4 linked regions of the Homo sapiens genome follow. The gene in region 1 interacts genetically with each later gene. Each region holds a gene or a part of one and is shown on either strand. Other genes may lie near its edges.

Region 1 (3,500 bases):
TTCCTCCCCATTATAGCAAACATAGGGAAACATTACCTCACATTTGGATAAAGAAAACGTGTGTCCCAAATGAAGGCGTCCATTCATATATGGATATGGGAAGGTTACAAAATACTTGCCCTTGCTGCAAAACAACAGTATAAAAAAGAAAGTACAGAAGAATAAATGTTAAGTTCCTTTTACAATAAGGAAGTGGGGTGAAGGAAATGCTTGATATAAATAACTTAAGGTTATTTAAAAAATATTTAAAAGTAAATTTATAAATCTACAAATTTAAAACTCTCTAAAATTGAAAATTACTTTAGATTTACAAGAAATAAGACATTGATAGGTTGCTATTAAGAATTAAATAGCCTTGTAACAAATACTAGAGGTTTAATTTGAGCTAAAATACTTGAGTAAAGATAATATACTAGGTCAGGCGTGGTGGCTCACACCTGTAATCCCAACACTTTGGGAGGCCAAGGCTGGTGGACTGCTTGAGGCCAGGAGTTCGAGACCAGCCTGGGCAACATGGTGAAACCCTGTCTCTACTAAAAACTAGCCGGGCGTGATGGCGTGCGCTGATAATCCCAGCTACTCTAGTGGTTAAGCATGAGAATCAAGAATCGCCTGATCATTGAACCTGAGAGGCAGAGGTTGCAATGAGCTGAGATCATGCCACTGCACTCCAGCCTGGGCGAAAATGAGACTCCATCTCAAAAAAAAAAAAATTCTTTAATACCCTTATGAACCTAGGCTAATTTAATATTTTACTGAATAAATGAGATTTGTTTTCACTAGATACTAGATATATATATAAAGCAATTCAAAGTCCCTCAGGTAATATAAAACATCCTCAATATTACTTGATATGTGGTAGATTCACTTTAAACGCATCCTTTAAAGCTTTTTTTTTTTTTTTAATTTTTTAGTTGTTTTTGTAAAGACAGGGTTCTCAATATAAGAACCACCATGAGCATGAGCTCATGAGCCACCATGCTTGGTCTGTATTCTTTTTTCTTATGAAGAATATCTAACATACATACTGTGTTATGAAGCATAATAAAATGAACACTTGTAAACACACCATCTGACTTATGAATCCACTGAAACTACCTGTTTCCTCTCTACTGTCCCACAAGAGATAACCGACATTCTGAAATTTGCTTTTACCGTTCCCTTGTTTTTGAATAGTTTGCACACTTGGCAGCACCCTTAAACTATTTATCATTTAGTTTCGCTCACTTGTGAGTTTCATACAAAAAAAAGGCATACTTCATATAGACTTCTGCAATTTGCCTTCTTCACTTGACATTATATTACTTTCTTCAGTCTTACTGCATACACCTATAGTTAATTCTCTTTCACTAAACAAAGCAGCTTTTTCAGTTCACTTGTAATTATTTTAAATTACCTTAAAGTTAACCAAACCTCTAGAAGAAAATAGAAGCTTCAAATTATAGCTTCAAGTATAACACCAGAGACTATATTACAGCAATTTCTTTTTCTCTTAAAAAAAAAAAAAAAAAAAAAAGGCTGGGGCCTGGTGGCTCACACCTCTAATCCCAGCACTTTGGGAGGCGGAGGCGGGCGGATCACCTGAGGTTGGGATTTCAAGACTAGCCTAACGTGGAGAAAACCCGTCTCTAGTAAAACTACAAAATTAGCTGTGCGTGGTGGCGCATGCCTGTAATCCCAGCTACAGGGGAGGCTGAGGCAGGAGAATCGCTTGAACACGGGAGTCGGAGGTTGCGGTGAGCCGAGATCACACCATTGCACTCCAGCCTGGGCAACAACAGCAAAACTCTGTCTCAAATATATATATATATATCCATATATATATATATATATCCATATATATATATATCCATATATATATATATATATCCATATATATATATATATCCATATATGTATATATCCATATATATATATATCCATATATGTATATATCCATATATATATATATATATATCCATTAGAATATAGCTTAATAAGCAAGGAAAAAAGACTTTTGAATCAGAAAGTCCTAAAAACAAGCCCAGGCCCAGTCAATTCCCAGTGATGTAACCTTGAACTGGTTACTTAGCCTCTCTGTGCCTCAGTTTCCTCAGCTGTAAAAGAGAAATTTTAAAAGCTGTTAACCTTAAAGTATATTGAGAAGATTAAGGCCAGGCATGGTGGCTCAAACCTGTAATCCCAACACTTTGGGAGGCAAAAGTGGGAGGATTACTTGAGCCCAGGAGTTCAAGACTAGCCTGGGCAAGACAGTGAAACTTCATTTCTACAAAAGAAATTTTTTCAATGCTGGGTGCAGTGGCCCATGCCTATAATCCCGGCACTTTGGGAGGCCGGGGTGGGCAGATCACTTGAGCCCAGGAGTTGGGACCAGCCTCAGCAACATAACAAGACCCCATTTCTACTAAAAATAGAAAAATTACCTGGGTGTGGTGGCGTGCGCCTACAGTCCCACCTACTCAGGAGGCTGAGGTGAGAGGATCACCTGAGCCCAGGAGACAGAGGTTGCAGTGAGCTGAGATCACACAACTGCACTCCAGCCTGGGTGACAGAGGCTCGCTCCATCTGACACCACAGACTCTGTCTCCAAATTAAAAAAAAAAAAAAGATAATGGGCGGGCACAGTGGCTCACGCGTGTAATCCCAGCACTTTGGGAGTCGGAGGCAGGCGGATCATTTGAGTTTGAGACCAGACTGGCCAACATGGCAAAACCCCGTCTCTATTAAAAACAAAAATTAAAACTTAGCCAGGCGTGGTGGCATGCACCTGTAATCCCAGCTACTGGGGAGGCTGAGGCAGAAAAATCATTGAACCCGGGAGGCAGAGGTTGCAGTGAGCCGAGATCATGCCACTGCACCCAGCCTAGGCAACAGAGCAAGACTCCACCTCAAAAAAAAAAAAAAAAAGGCCGGGCGCAGTGGCTCACGCCTGTAATCCCAGCACTTTGGAAGGCCGAGGCAGGCAGATCACGAGGTCAGGAGATCGAGACCACAATGCAACCCCATCTCTACTAAAAATACAAAAAAATTAGCCGGGCATGGTGGCAGCCGCCTGTAGTTCCAGCTACTCAGGAGGCTGAAGCAGGAGAATGGCGTGAACCCGGCAGGCGGAGCTTGCAGTGAGCCGAGATTGCGCCACTGCACTCCAGCCTGGGTGACAGAGCAAGACTCCGTCTCAAAAAAAAAAAACAAAAACAAAAAAAATTAAAAGGTAAAATGAGGCCAGGAGTGATGGCTCATGTCTTATAATCTTAAGAGCTTTGAGAGGCCAAGGCAGAAGGATCACTTGAAGCCAGGAGTTTGAGACCAGCCTGGGCAACATAGCAAGACCCTGTCTCTAAGAAAAAACAAATTAGCCAGGCATGGTGGCGCATGCCTGTAGTCCCAGCTACTCAGAAGGCCGAGGAAGAAGGATTGCTTGAGCTCGGGAGTTTGAAGTTACAGTGAGCTATGACTGTGCCACTGCACTCCAGCTTGAATGACACAGCAAGACTTTGTCT
Region 2 (3,975 bases), on another chromosome or scaffold:
ACTTTATTTGGTGGAACTGATTGAAAATCTTAAGGGAATTTACATTTACCACAAGGAGGAAGCAACAACGAGGGTCTATGGAAGGATGCCGCGGAATCCGGCCAGAAGGACTCCAGGCGGGCGGAGCGGAAGGAGCGGTTCCCAGAGAAAAGGGGGCGGGTTGGGGGTGCGCGCGGAGAGAGGCGCGCGGACGCGGCGGGGTGCGGGGAGGGGCAACGGCTGGGGAGAGAAGGGGCTGGAATGGGGGAGGGACAGGAGAGGGGACAGGTAAGCGTTGGGGGCCGGGTCCTCTGGGGTCTGGGGCGCCCGCAGACCCACGCGGGTGAATGCGACGCTCTCGCTTGGGAGACTAAAAACCCGCCCGGACGTACCGGTGTCTGGACCCAGCAAAGGACGCGAGAGCGGGCGGACCCTCCCGACCGGAAGCCCCGCCACAGAGCGGGTTGTGGGGAGCGGAACCGGATCGCAGCGGGCGGGGCGGAATCCGGTAGTGCTGAGCGAACCGGAAGTCGGTCCGCGGCGTTTTCTGCCCGCGGTGCGCAGCGCTGAGTGTCGCGGCAGCAGCCTGTGCTTGCGCCTCAAGTCTTTCCGAGGGGCCAGTGGGCAGCGCGGGCCTCGGGGTCCTGGGGCGAGACGGTGAGCGTGGGGGCTGGGCCGGCGCCAGGGGCGCCGTTTCCTTCCCCCACGCAGCTCCGCGCGCCCGGGCCTCCACATCGTCGCTAACGGAGCGTTGCGGCGCCGGCGACCCCTGGCGAGCCCGGGGCGGGACAGTGGCCAGGCCGGCCTGGGCCCAGCGCGTGGCCTCCGCCGTTTCGGGCTGTGCTGGGTGGAAGATTAGGCTCCCCGGGCACGCCGTCCCCGCCGAGAGGCCTCAGCTTCGTGGCAGCGCCCTCGTCCTTCCAGCCCGCTCGAGGGTGGCCGCCAGGGCGCGATGAAGGAATGTGAGAAAGTGCTTAGCGCTCCAGCCGCTCCGAGGGAAGCCAGGTGGGAGGAGATCCCGAAACGCTAAGGTTTTGACAGCGTTACAGTGAATTCTCCGGCTGTAGAGATTGGAGGAAGTCGGGAGAAATTCGTCTCTAAGTTGTAAGGTGGAACAGCATTCATTTTCTTACTGCCAATGGAGGTTTTTCATGAATTTACTAACTCAGTAAAAAGATTCGGCTTTTTTTTTTTTAATCTTAAAGGATCACGCTTTAAACCTCTGTAACAAAGTAATTATTTGTACCACTCTCTACCCCACCCTCCAACAAAATAACCTATCGGCTCTCAGAAAATAATAACCCTTTGCCTGCCTTTGAAATAGTTATCCTTTTAGTATGACAGTGTTCAAAAATTCTTTTCTTAGACTTGTAGCAGAACATAGCTATGATGATCTGAATTTTTCTCTTTCAGCTTGTTCTAAAGACGAAGGGGAACTCCCTAGTGCTACAGGCTGTTTCAGGAAGCCAATTAATTTTGTACACATAATACTTAATTACCTTCTAATAATTGGAGCAGAAGATGAACCCAACTAATCCTTTCAGTGGGCAGCAGCCTAGTGCTTTTTCGGCGTCTTCTAGTAATGTAGGAACACTTCCATCTAAGCCGCCATTTCGATTTGGTCAACCTTCTCTTTTTGGACAAAACAGTACCTTATCTGGGAAGAGCTCGGGATTTTCACAGGTATCCAGCTTTCCAGCGTCTTCTGGAGTAAGTCATTCCTCTTCAGTGCAAACATTAGGGTTCACCCAAACCTCAAGTGTTGGACCCTTTTCTGGACTTGAGCACACTTCCACCTTTGTGGCTACCTCTGGGCCTTCAAGTTCATCTGTGCTGGGAAACACAGGATTTAGTTTTAAATCACCCACCAGTGTTGGGGCTTTCCCAAGCACTTCTGCTTTTGGACAAGAAGCTGGAGAAATAGTGAACTCTGGTTTTGGGAAAACAGAATTCAGCTTTAAACCTCTGGAAAATGCAGTGTTCAAACCAATACTGGGGGCTGAATCTGAGCCAGAGAAAACCCAGAGCCAAATTGCTTCTGGGTTTTTTACATTTTCCCACCCAATTAGTAGTGCACCTGGAGGCCTGGCCCCTTTCTCTTTTCCTCAAGTAACAAGTAGTTCAGCTACCACTTCAAATTTTACCTTTTCAAAACCTGTTAGTAGTAATAATTCATTATCTGCCTTTACCCCTGCTTTGTCAAACCAAAATGTAGAGGAAGAGAAGAGAGGACCTAAGTCAATATTTGGAAGTTCTAATAATAGCTTCAGTAGCTTCCCTGTATCATCTGCGGTTTTGGGCGAACCTTTCCAGGCTAGCAAAGCAGGTGTCAGGCAGGGGTGTGAAGAAGCTGTTTCCCAGGTGGAACCACTTCCCAGCCTAATGAAAGGACTGAAAAGGAAGGAGGACCAGGATCGCTCCCCAAGGAGACATGGCCACGAGCCAGCAGAAGATTCGGATCCTCTGTCCCGGGGCGATCATCCTCCAGACAAACGACCTGTCCGCCTGAATCGACCCCGGGGAGGTACTTTATTTGGTCGGACGATACAGGATGTTTTCAAAAGCAATAAGGAAGTAGGTCGTCTGGGCAACAAGGAGGCCAAAAAGGAAACTGGCTTTGTTGAGTCTGCAGAAAGTGACCACATGGCTATCCCAGGAGGGAATCAGTCTGTCCTGGCACCTTCCCGGATTCCAGGTGTGAATAAAGAGGAAGAAACTGAAAGTAGAGAGAAGAAAGAAGGTGAGCTCTGAAAATGTAGCACATAGAGTAAATCCTGCAGGCAGGTTTTCAATACGTTTCTCTGGGTGTTAGCTTGATTTTTCAGATAAATCTCCCATAAACATTAGGGATTCTAACATGTCATCGGAGCAGGTCTTACATCTGAAAATTTCCTCTGCTTCGACACAGTTGGTGCCTCCTGTTGTTGGAAACATCTGATGGTTTAAGTGTCCATTCTCTGAACCCCTAGATTCTCTAAGAGGAACTCCGGCGCGTCAGAGTAACAGAAGCGAGAGCACAGACAGTCTTGGGGGCTTGTCTCCCTCTGAAGTCACAGCCATCCAGTGCAAGAACATCCCTGACTACCTCAACGACAGGACCATTCTGGAGAACCATTTTGGCAAAATTGCTAAAGTGCAGCGCATCTTTACCAGGCGCAGCAAAAAGCTTGCAGTGGTACATTTCTTTGATCATGTGAGTACTCCCATCTTGCCATTTGTTACCCTAGATTTGAACCTTGTCACTTTAAAACCTGTTTTTTTTTTTTGGTCCCTCAGTTGTTTGCTTACTATAATATAGAGAAAGTACTCAAATATCTTATTAGCATAGGCTGGGATAGCACTATTTATTTCATAACTTGGCATATTCTAGGTCCCTACAGAATATAGTACTCTAGAAATGCTGGGAGAGTTGTTCTCATGAAGTGAAATTCTTCTGAAAGGCTTTAGAAATTCAGAAATTCTTCTGAAAGGCTCTAACCACATAGTACTTTTGGAAGTTGAGTTTTTTGGTTTTGTTTTTGTTTTATTTGGTCATAGAAGATGATCGCTGTAAACGTTCAAACAATACAGAAAAAGTGAAATTGGCCGGGCGTGGTGGCTTACGCTTGTAGTCCCAGCACCTGGGGAGGCCAAGGTGGGCGGATCATGAGGTCAGGAGATCCAGACCATCCTGGCTAACACGGTGAAACCCCATCTCTACTAAAAATACAAAAAATTAGCTGGGTGTGGTGGCTCGCGCCTGTCATCTCAGCTACTCGGGAGGCTGAGGCAGGAGAATTGCTTGAATCCGGGAGGCGGCGGTTGCAGTGAGCCGAGTTCGTGCCACTGCACTCCAGTCTGGGAGACAGAGCCAGACTCCGTCTCAAAAAAAAGAAAAAGAAAAAAAGTGAAATTCCCCTTGTCAGTCTGTCCTCTAGAGATAACTGCTTTGAAGCACTGGGTTTGTATCCTGACTTTAAATGTATGCATAATACTTTCTTTTTATTTATTTATTTA
Region 3 (3,500 bases), on another chromosome or scaffold:
CTGTCATTTTATTACATTACACAACACAGAGACTGACCTTGACATCCCTAAGACCAGAAACGTCACGTGGAGTTCGAGAGCAACTCCCACTCCGGGCCACAGAGGACGGGGGAGCAGAGTCTTCCCGCTTTCTTTTCCTAGTGATGCTCCGGGATCTTCTTGCCTGGACTGCGTAATGGGCCTGCAAAGCAGGGGAAGCAATGCTCAGCGCTCAGGACCCCAGGTCCACTCCCAGGCTCAGTGCTCAGCGCTCAGGACCCCAGGTCCACTCCCAGGCTCAGTGCTCAGCGCTCAGGACCCCAGGTCCACTCCCAGGCTCAGCGCTCAGGACCCCAGCCCCGCTCCCAGGCTCAGCGCTCAGGACCCCAGCCCCGCTCCCAGGCTCAGCGCTCAGGACCCCAGCCCCGCTCCCAGGCTCAGAGCTCAGGACCCCAGCCCCACTCCCAGGCTCAGCGCTCAGGACCCCAGCCCCACTCCCAGGCTCAGCGCTCAGGACCCCAGGTCCACTCCCAGGCTCAGCGCTCAGGACCCCAGGTCCACTCCCAGGCTCAGAGCTCAGGACCCCAGCCCCGCACCCAGGCTCAGCGACAGGCATGAGGTCACTCCAGCAAGAGGGGAGGAGAGGAGCGTCTGAACCATTAACACATGGGCTAAAGGTCTTGAAAATACACGCAGTATTTTCATATTAGTGACACCATTTCAAGTTCACATTAGTAACAATTTCACATTAGTTGTTGGTCAAATATTCTTATTCACTTAACGGAAGCTGCTTTACGTAAGAAAGCTGATTTTAACTCCACTTAAAGAAACTTAGAACTCTCATTTAAAAGTGATTATTATAGTATAGCATCACAATTTATATTTCAGATATAAACAATGCTCTCTCCCTCACTGCCCCATTTTGGGGGTTACTGATATGAACACAAAGGGACAACCATCAGACAGAAACCATCAGACGGAAACTGCAGACTGCACATCTAGAGGACAGGGTCTGCAGCCACACCCTGGGCACGTCATGGTGCTGTCTCGTGCTGGCTGTGGAGCTTTTTTTTTTTTGAGACACAGTCTTGCTCTGTTGCCCAGGCTGGAGTGCAGCCTCAATCCACCACTTCAACCCAGACCCAGGGTCAGGGAATCCTCAACCCATCACTTCAAGTCAGTCCCAGGGCCAGCGAATCTCAAAAGAGAAAAACTGGAAGCTCTCATTTCTTTTTGCTGTAATTTCCCACGTTCCCACGGCTTTCCAAAACCCTGGTTTCTTTCTTTCTTTTTTTTGAGATGGAGTCTCACTCTGTCGCCCAGGCTGGAGTACAGGGGCACGATCTCAGCTCACTGCAATCTCTGCCTCCCAAGTTCAAGCAATTCTCCTGCCTCAGCATCCTGAGTAACTGGGATTACAGGCACACGCCACCACGCCCGGCTAATTTTTTGTATTTTTTTTAGTACAGACTGGGTTTCACCATGTTGGCCAGGCTGGTCTCGAACCCCTGACATCATGATCTGCCCGCCTTGGCCTCCCAAAGTGCTGGGATTACAGGCATGAGCCACCACGCCCGGCCAGTTTTCTTTATTAAAAAGGTGTATCCAGCCACATAAACACATGAACCGCCCCCACACTCACATCGTCTTTATCGTCCATGTCAACACCAAGACTACGCATCTCCTTCTCCAAAACTGTCCTCTGAACCTGAGAAGGATAAAAAGAAATATTAGCTTTAAATTAGTTTGATGAAATGTTGAAAAAAACTTCAAGGCAATATATATGTATACATATTTTGCAACAATTATAATATACTTATTTTAGAAGTTGTAATTTTTATTGGGCCCCGCTTTCATGTTTTTGGATAGCTCAATTAAATCCCACGAAAACTAACATTAACAGAGCAGTTGCTGTGGGAAGAATCAGCGTATCCTCCACGTCTGTCCATTCTTCACCGCAACACGGGGGAGAGAGTGACCGTCTCCATCAGAGGTGAGACACTAAAGCTGAGGTTAGTGAGGTGGCCTCAGACAAAGGCAGTGCGCCAACCTCTCTCCTCCCAGAGATGGCTGAGCCCCACCTGGAGAAGTACAAAAATGTCCAAGTCCGCCATAACCAGTCACTTGCCACCATGTGAAAACAGTGTATTCAAACAGGAAGACCCACTGAGAGGCATCCTGAATGTCAAGTGACTTCTCTGGTTACATGTTAACTGCCCTGCATGTGGGCTTTCTTCCCCCAGTCCCACCCTGCCACAGAGCCAATAAATTGCCTTTTGTAGACTGCGTCAGGTTTCTGTAAATTGCTAAAGAGTCCAGATTTTTTTTTAAATTTTTTATTTTTTGAGATGGAGTCTTGCTCTGTTGCCCAGGCTGGAGTGCACTGGCACAATCTCGGCTCACTGCAAGCTCTGCCTCCCGGGTTCACACCATTTTCCTGCCCCAGCCTCCCGAGTAGCTGGGACTACAGGCGCCCGCCACCACGCCCAGCTAATTTTTCTGCATTTTTAGTAGAGACGGGGTTTCACTGTTTTAGCCAGGATGGTCTCAATCTCCTGACCTCGTGATCCACCCACCTCAGCCTCCCAAAGTGCTGAGATTACAGGCGTGAGCCACTGCGCCCGGCCTAAAGAGTCCAGATTTAATGCAGAAATTAAAGAACAAGAAAACCAGCCGGGCGTGGTGGCTCACGCCTGTAATCTCAGCACTTTGGGAGGCCAAGGCAGGCAGATCACTTGAGGTAAGGAGTTTGAGACCAGCCTGGCCAACATGGTGAAACCCCATCTCCACTAAAAATACAAAAGTTAGCCAGGCGTAGTGGCAGGTGCCTGTAATCCCAGCTACTCGGGAGGCTGAGGCAGGAGAATTGCTTGAACCCGCGAGGTGGAGGCTGCAGTGAGCCAAGATGGCGCCATTGCACTCCAGCCTGGGAGACACAGCAAGACTCCATCTCCCCCCTAAAAAAAAGAGAGAGAGAAAAAAGAAGAGGAAAATGTTCACTGATAGCCTTGAACGTCTGTGAACCATAAGTTACAGTTTTAATCTGTACAACTGCAAAATGACTGGATCTAGAGTAGTGCCAAACTCGAAGCTGAAAGTCACCAAGAAAGGACGCAGTAAAGAATATAAAAGATCAATACGTGAGCGATCTTGCAAATCCATACACCAATAAAACAAGAATGTGCAATCTTATGGCCATAAATGGGTTGAAAAGTTGTTATTTAGCAATGATCACACAGGAATCCAATTTTCAAAAACTAGATCACACTGCTTTGGAAAGACACAAACTTGCCTTCTTAGCAGTTCGCGGCATCCTGGGTCCCTGTGTATTCTTTTCTTTGGACTCCAGAATTTTCAACTTCTTTTTCTCTCGAATTTGCTTTGCCAGCTGTCGGATTTCCAGCATCTCTTCGTCTTCACTCTCAGATACACTGTCATACTCTCCAGCAGCTGTTCTCAGCTCTTCTTCTTTTTCTAATTCTTCCAATTTCTTTAAAAATGGAGTTGTAATGAAGCAAAAT
Region 4 (3,500 bases), on another chromosome or scaffold:
TGCTGGGATTACAGGCATGAGCCACCATGCCTGGCCTTTTCCTGTCATTCTCATGGCATTTATCAGAGTCTGTAGTTGAACTTAATCTGGATTGTTATTTGATTAATGTCTCTCTTGCTTGACATGTACGTTGTATAGTTCCTGGTACATGCAAGATGCTCAGTAAATACTTGTTAAGTGAATGAATGAATGACACTTGGTTACTTCATGTTGTATTTTTGCTGAAGCTTGCCATTCATGTAGAAGTGTGTTTGGTGGTACGTGGGTCAGGGGGGGCTCTCCGGTTATTTTATAAGTATAAAAGTATAATTTTATAAGTGTAGCTTAACCCTAATGCAATTTTCTCACATTTTTGGACTTCTTTGGTGTTTAATATAAATAAGGTACTATGTAAGTAGATAACAGCATTGTGGCTTCCAGAAGCAGATTTCAGATAGGAACAGAAATATTGTAGTAATTCAGTGTTGTTTATTTTTCCAGGTTGCCAAGGAAAGTGTACTGCAGTTTTACCCGAAAGCTAATATCGTTGCCTACCATGACAGCATCATGAAGTATGCTATAGTGATTACATTGCAAAGTTGTATAAGGGTTTTGTAAGCCAAATATATAAGCTCAAAGTCATTCAGCTTTTTTAAAAAAAATGATTTTTCTAGAATTATTAAACAGTGGTGGTTTCTGCTTACAGAGTGGCATTCTTTTTACCAGTTCATAAATACATGGTTTGAATGATTTAGAATGGTGAGATAGTTTAATACTTTTAATAAATAAGTTACTTGGAAATTTATAAAGACCTTATATGCTTGCCTTAAGTAAGAAGATATTTTAAACTATGAAATATCCTTATTTATGATGATTCAGACTTTTCTAAAGTGTTTGCCTTTTTTTGTTTAAAAGTTTCCCTCCCAAAATAATCTGTAGTATGACTCTGACTTCTGTAATATAACACTTGGAATTGTGGTAGGGCAGTAGTATTGACAGTACATAAATATATTTATCTCAGTAAAGATAGAGTAAATATATAATTTTGGAGGAGTTGGAGCAAAGGAACTGTGGGCCGAAATTGTCCTTTATCTATGGTGGTTTAGCTTGCAAGTAAATAGTGTTAAAAATAGTCCTTGTTTGAGGTACTGGAATTGAGGTACTTAACACTTTCTCAGGGCATTTGTATCTCCGGATTGTGTTTTTTTTGTGTGTGAGATAGGGTTTTGCGCTTATTGCCCAGGCTGGAGTACAGTGGCATGATCTTGGCTCACTGCAACCTCCGCCTCCTGGGTTCAAGCGATTCTCCTGTCTCAGCCTCCTGAGTAGTTGGGATTACAGGCGCACGCCACCACACTCAGCTAATTTTTGTATTTTAGTAGGCGGGGTTTCATCATGTTGGCCAGGCTGGTCTCAAACTCCCGACCTCAGGTGATCCACCCGCCTTGGCCTCCCAAAGTGCAGGGATTACAGGCGTGAGCCACTGCACCCGGCCTGTATCTCCGGCTTGTTTTTTAGTTTTTTACTCTGTGAACCTGCCTGTAGCCCTATAACCTCCTTACCCTGTGTTGCTTTCCCAGTGCTGCTAAAAACAGAGACCCTAGGGGCCTGAACCCTGCCTGATCCTGATCATGTGAGGTGAAGTCAGAGGCCAGGCAGATCCTGGGAATGTGTTCTTTATGCGTTCCCAGGCACTTGCTGCCCAAAGAAGGCCTAGTGGGACTAGTGAAGTCATGCCATCTTTCTGCCAGTTTGAGATCTTTCTCTTGTGCCCTAGCTGGCCAAAAAGGATAGGAATTTGAAGGAAATAATTTCTTTAAAATCTGCTTATGTTTGGAAAGAGTCAAACCTTACTATCTATATGACATATAATCCTGATATCAGTTTTGTTTACAGTTACTATGTTTTTTTCAGAACTGTTTATTATACTGCAAAGATCATGTGGAAGGCTAGTTATTTTGGTGACCTTTTTTTATTTTGTTTTGTAGCCCTGACTATAATGTGGAATTTTTCCGACAGTTTATACTGGTTATGAATGCTTTAGATAACAGAGGTGAGGTTATTTTAATACTTTTAATTTCTCAGTATTTCCTCTCTCCCATATCAAATTTGTTTACAAATTTAATATTTATTAGACTATTGTGATTTAGAACTTAAAAGACTTAAGAGAAATGATCGAGTTTAAAGCATGCCCATTGATTGCAGTTTTATATAGAAATGACTTATTCCAGGCGGGAATTTAGCTATCATATTCTCTGCATTTCTACCAAAAGGTATAAATAGAAGTGAAGTGAAAAGCTCTCAAAAAGTGTGACTGTGGCTCAGCACAGTGGCTCACGCCTGTAATCCCAGCACTTTGAGAGACCAAGGCAGGAGGATCACTTGAGGTCAGGAGTTCGAGACCAACCTAGTCAACATGGTGAAACCGTCTCTACCAAAAAACACAAAAATTAGCCGGTGTGGTGGCATGTGCCTGTAGTCCCAGCTTCTCCGGAGGCTGAGGTGGGAGAATCGCTTGAAGCCAGGAGGCAGAGGTTGCAGTGAGCCTAGATCACACCACTACACTCCAGCCTTGGTGACAGAGTGCGACCCTGTCTCAAAAAAAGAAAAAGTGTGACTGGAGGGTGGGGTGGGGGATGCTTGAGTGATATTCTTTGTCTGTAATTACTTCCACATGTAAAAGTATATCTACTAAGTGAGTTTACAACAAGTTGGGCCAGAAATATCTAAATAAAAAACACAAGGAAAAGTCAAAATTACGTTTATTTTTTAAGGCTTGGGGGGTCTCACTGTTGCCCAGACTAGAGTGCACTGGTGTGATCATAACTCACTGAAGCCTTCAAATGGGCTCAGGTGATACTCTTACCTCAACCTCTGCAGTAGCTACTCTGCAGACAGGTACCACCATACCCGGCTAATTTTTTTATGTTTATTTTTGTAGGGATGAAGTCTTGCTTTGTTGCCCAGGCTGGCCTCGAACTCCTGGCTTCAAGCAGTCCTCCCACCTCAGCCTCCCAGAATGCTGAGATTATGGGCATGAGCCAGTGCTCCTGGCGTGAAATTACTCTCTTAACCTGACTCATCTTTTTTCCCTAGCCTTAAACTACTTTAATAGTTCCAAGTTGATATTCCACATTCTGCCTTCATTTCTATCATGTATTATCTGCTAGTTATATTAGAATAGTGGTGAGTTTAGGAACACCTTGAAACAGTGTTTTGTGTAAGGTACAGCAATAGAAGAGAAATATGGCACGTTGGATTTTTAAGATTATGTGTTTCTGTGGGTACTTCTCCTGGAGTAAATTTGTGATATAAATTCTATTTGATATTTTGCTAAGTGAATGTCTCTTAAATGTCTGTAATTAACAGTTGTATTATTCTGGCCATAGCTATAAGAAAATTGTACAAAAAATGAAGCCAGTAAGATAGTTTTGAGTCTGTGTCATCCTAATTAAAGATAACTAATTTTTTTTTTCCCAAAAACTCATACTGTTTGTTTTACTTCCAGCTGCCCGAAACCA

Evidence for each region. A genetic interaction does not mean that the proteins touch.
Region 2: changes in LARS1 (region 1) and MCM3AP together harm fitness more than expected from each alone (negative genetic interaction), as found in Homo sapiens cells (one large-scale study listed by BioGRID).
Region 3: changes in LARS1 (region 1) and GTPBP4 together harm fitness less than expected from each alone (positive genetic interaction), as found in Homo sapiens cells (one large-scale study listed by BioGRID).
Region 4: changes in LARS1 (region 1) and UBA2 together harm fitness less than expected from each alone (positive genetic interaction), as found in Homo sapiens cells (one large-scale study listed by BioGRID).

What each region holds. Positions count from the first base shown.
Region 1 is NC_000005.10:146,172,651-146,176,150, forward strand, and holds part of LARS1 (leucine--tRNA ligase, cytoplasmic), read right to left. Parts: intron 125-3,500; coding exon 37-124; intron 1-36. UniProt on the Homo sapiens protein: Aminoacyl-tRNA synthetase that catalyzes the specific attachment of leucine to its cognate tRNA (tRNA(Leu)).
Region 2 is NC_000021.9:46,282,812-46,286,786, reverse strand, and holds the start of MCM3AP (germinal-center associated nuclear protein), read left to right. Parts: upstream 1-1,175; 5' UTR 1,176-1,500; coding exon 1,501-2,719; intron 2,720-2,948; coding exon 2,949-3,172; intron 3,173-3,975.
Region 3 is NC_000010.11:1,012,434-1,015,933, reverse strand, and holds part of GTPBP4 (GTP-binding protein 4), read right to left. Parts: intron 3,470-3,500; coding exon 3,272-3,469; intron 1,688-3,271; coding exon 1,622-1,687; intron 182-1,621; coding exon 38-181; intron 1-37. UniProt on the Homo sapiens protein: Involved in the biogenesis of the 60S ribosomal subunit. Acts as a TP53 repressor, preventing TP53 stabilization and cell cycle arrest.
Region 4 is NC_000019.10:34,431,381-34,434,880, forward strand, and holds part of UBA2 (SUMO-activating enzyme subunit 2), read left to right. Parts: intron 1-480; coding exon 481-551; intron 552-1,967; coding exon 1,968-2,032; intron 2,033-3,487; coding exon 3,488-3,500. UniProt on the Homo sapiens protein: The heterodimer acts as an E1 ligase for SUMO1, SUMO2, SUMO3, and probably SUMO4. It mediates ATP-dependent activation of SUMO proteins followed by formation of a thioester bond between a SUMO protein and a conserved active site cysteine residue on UBA2/SAE2.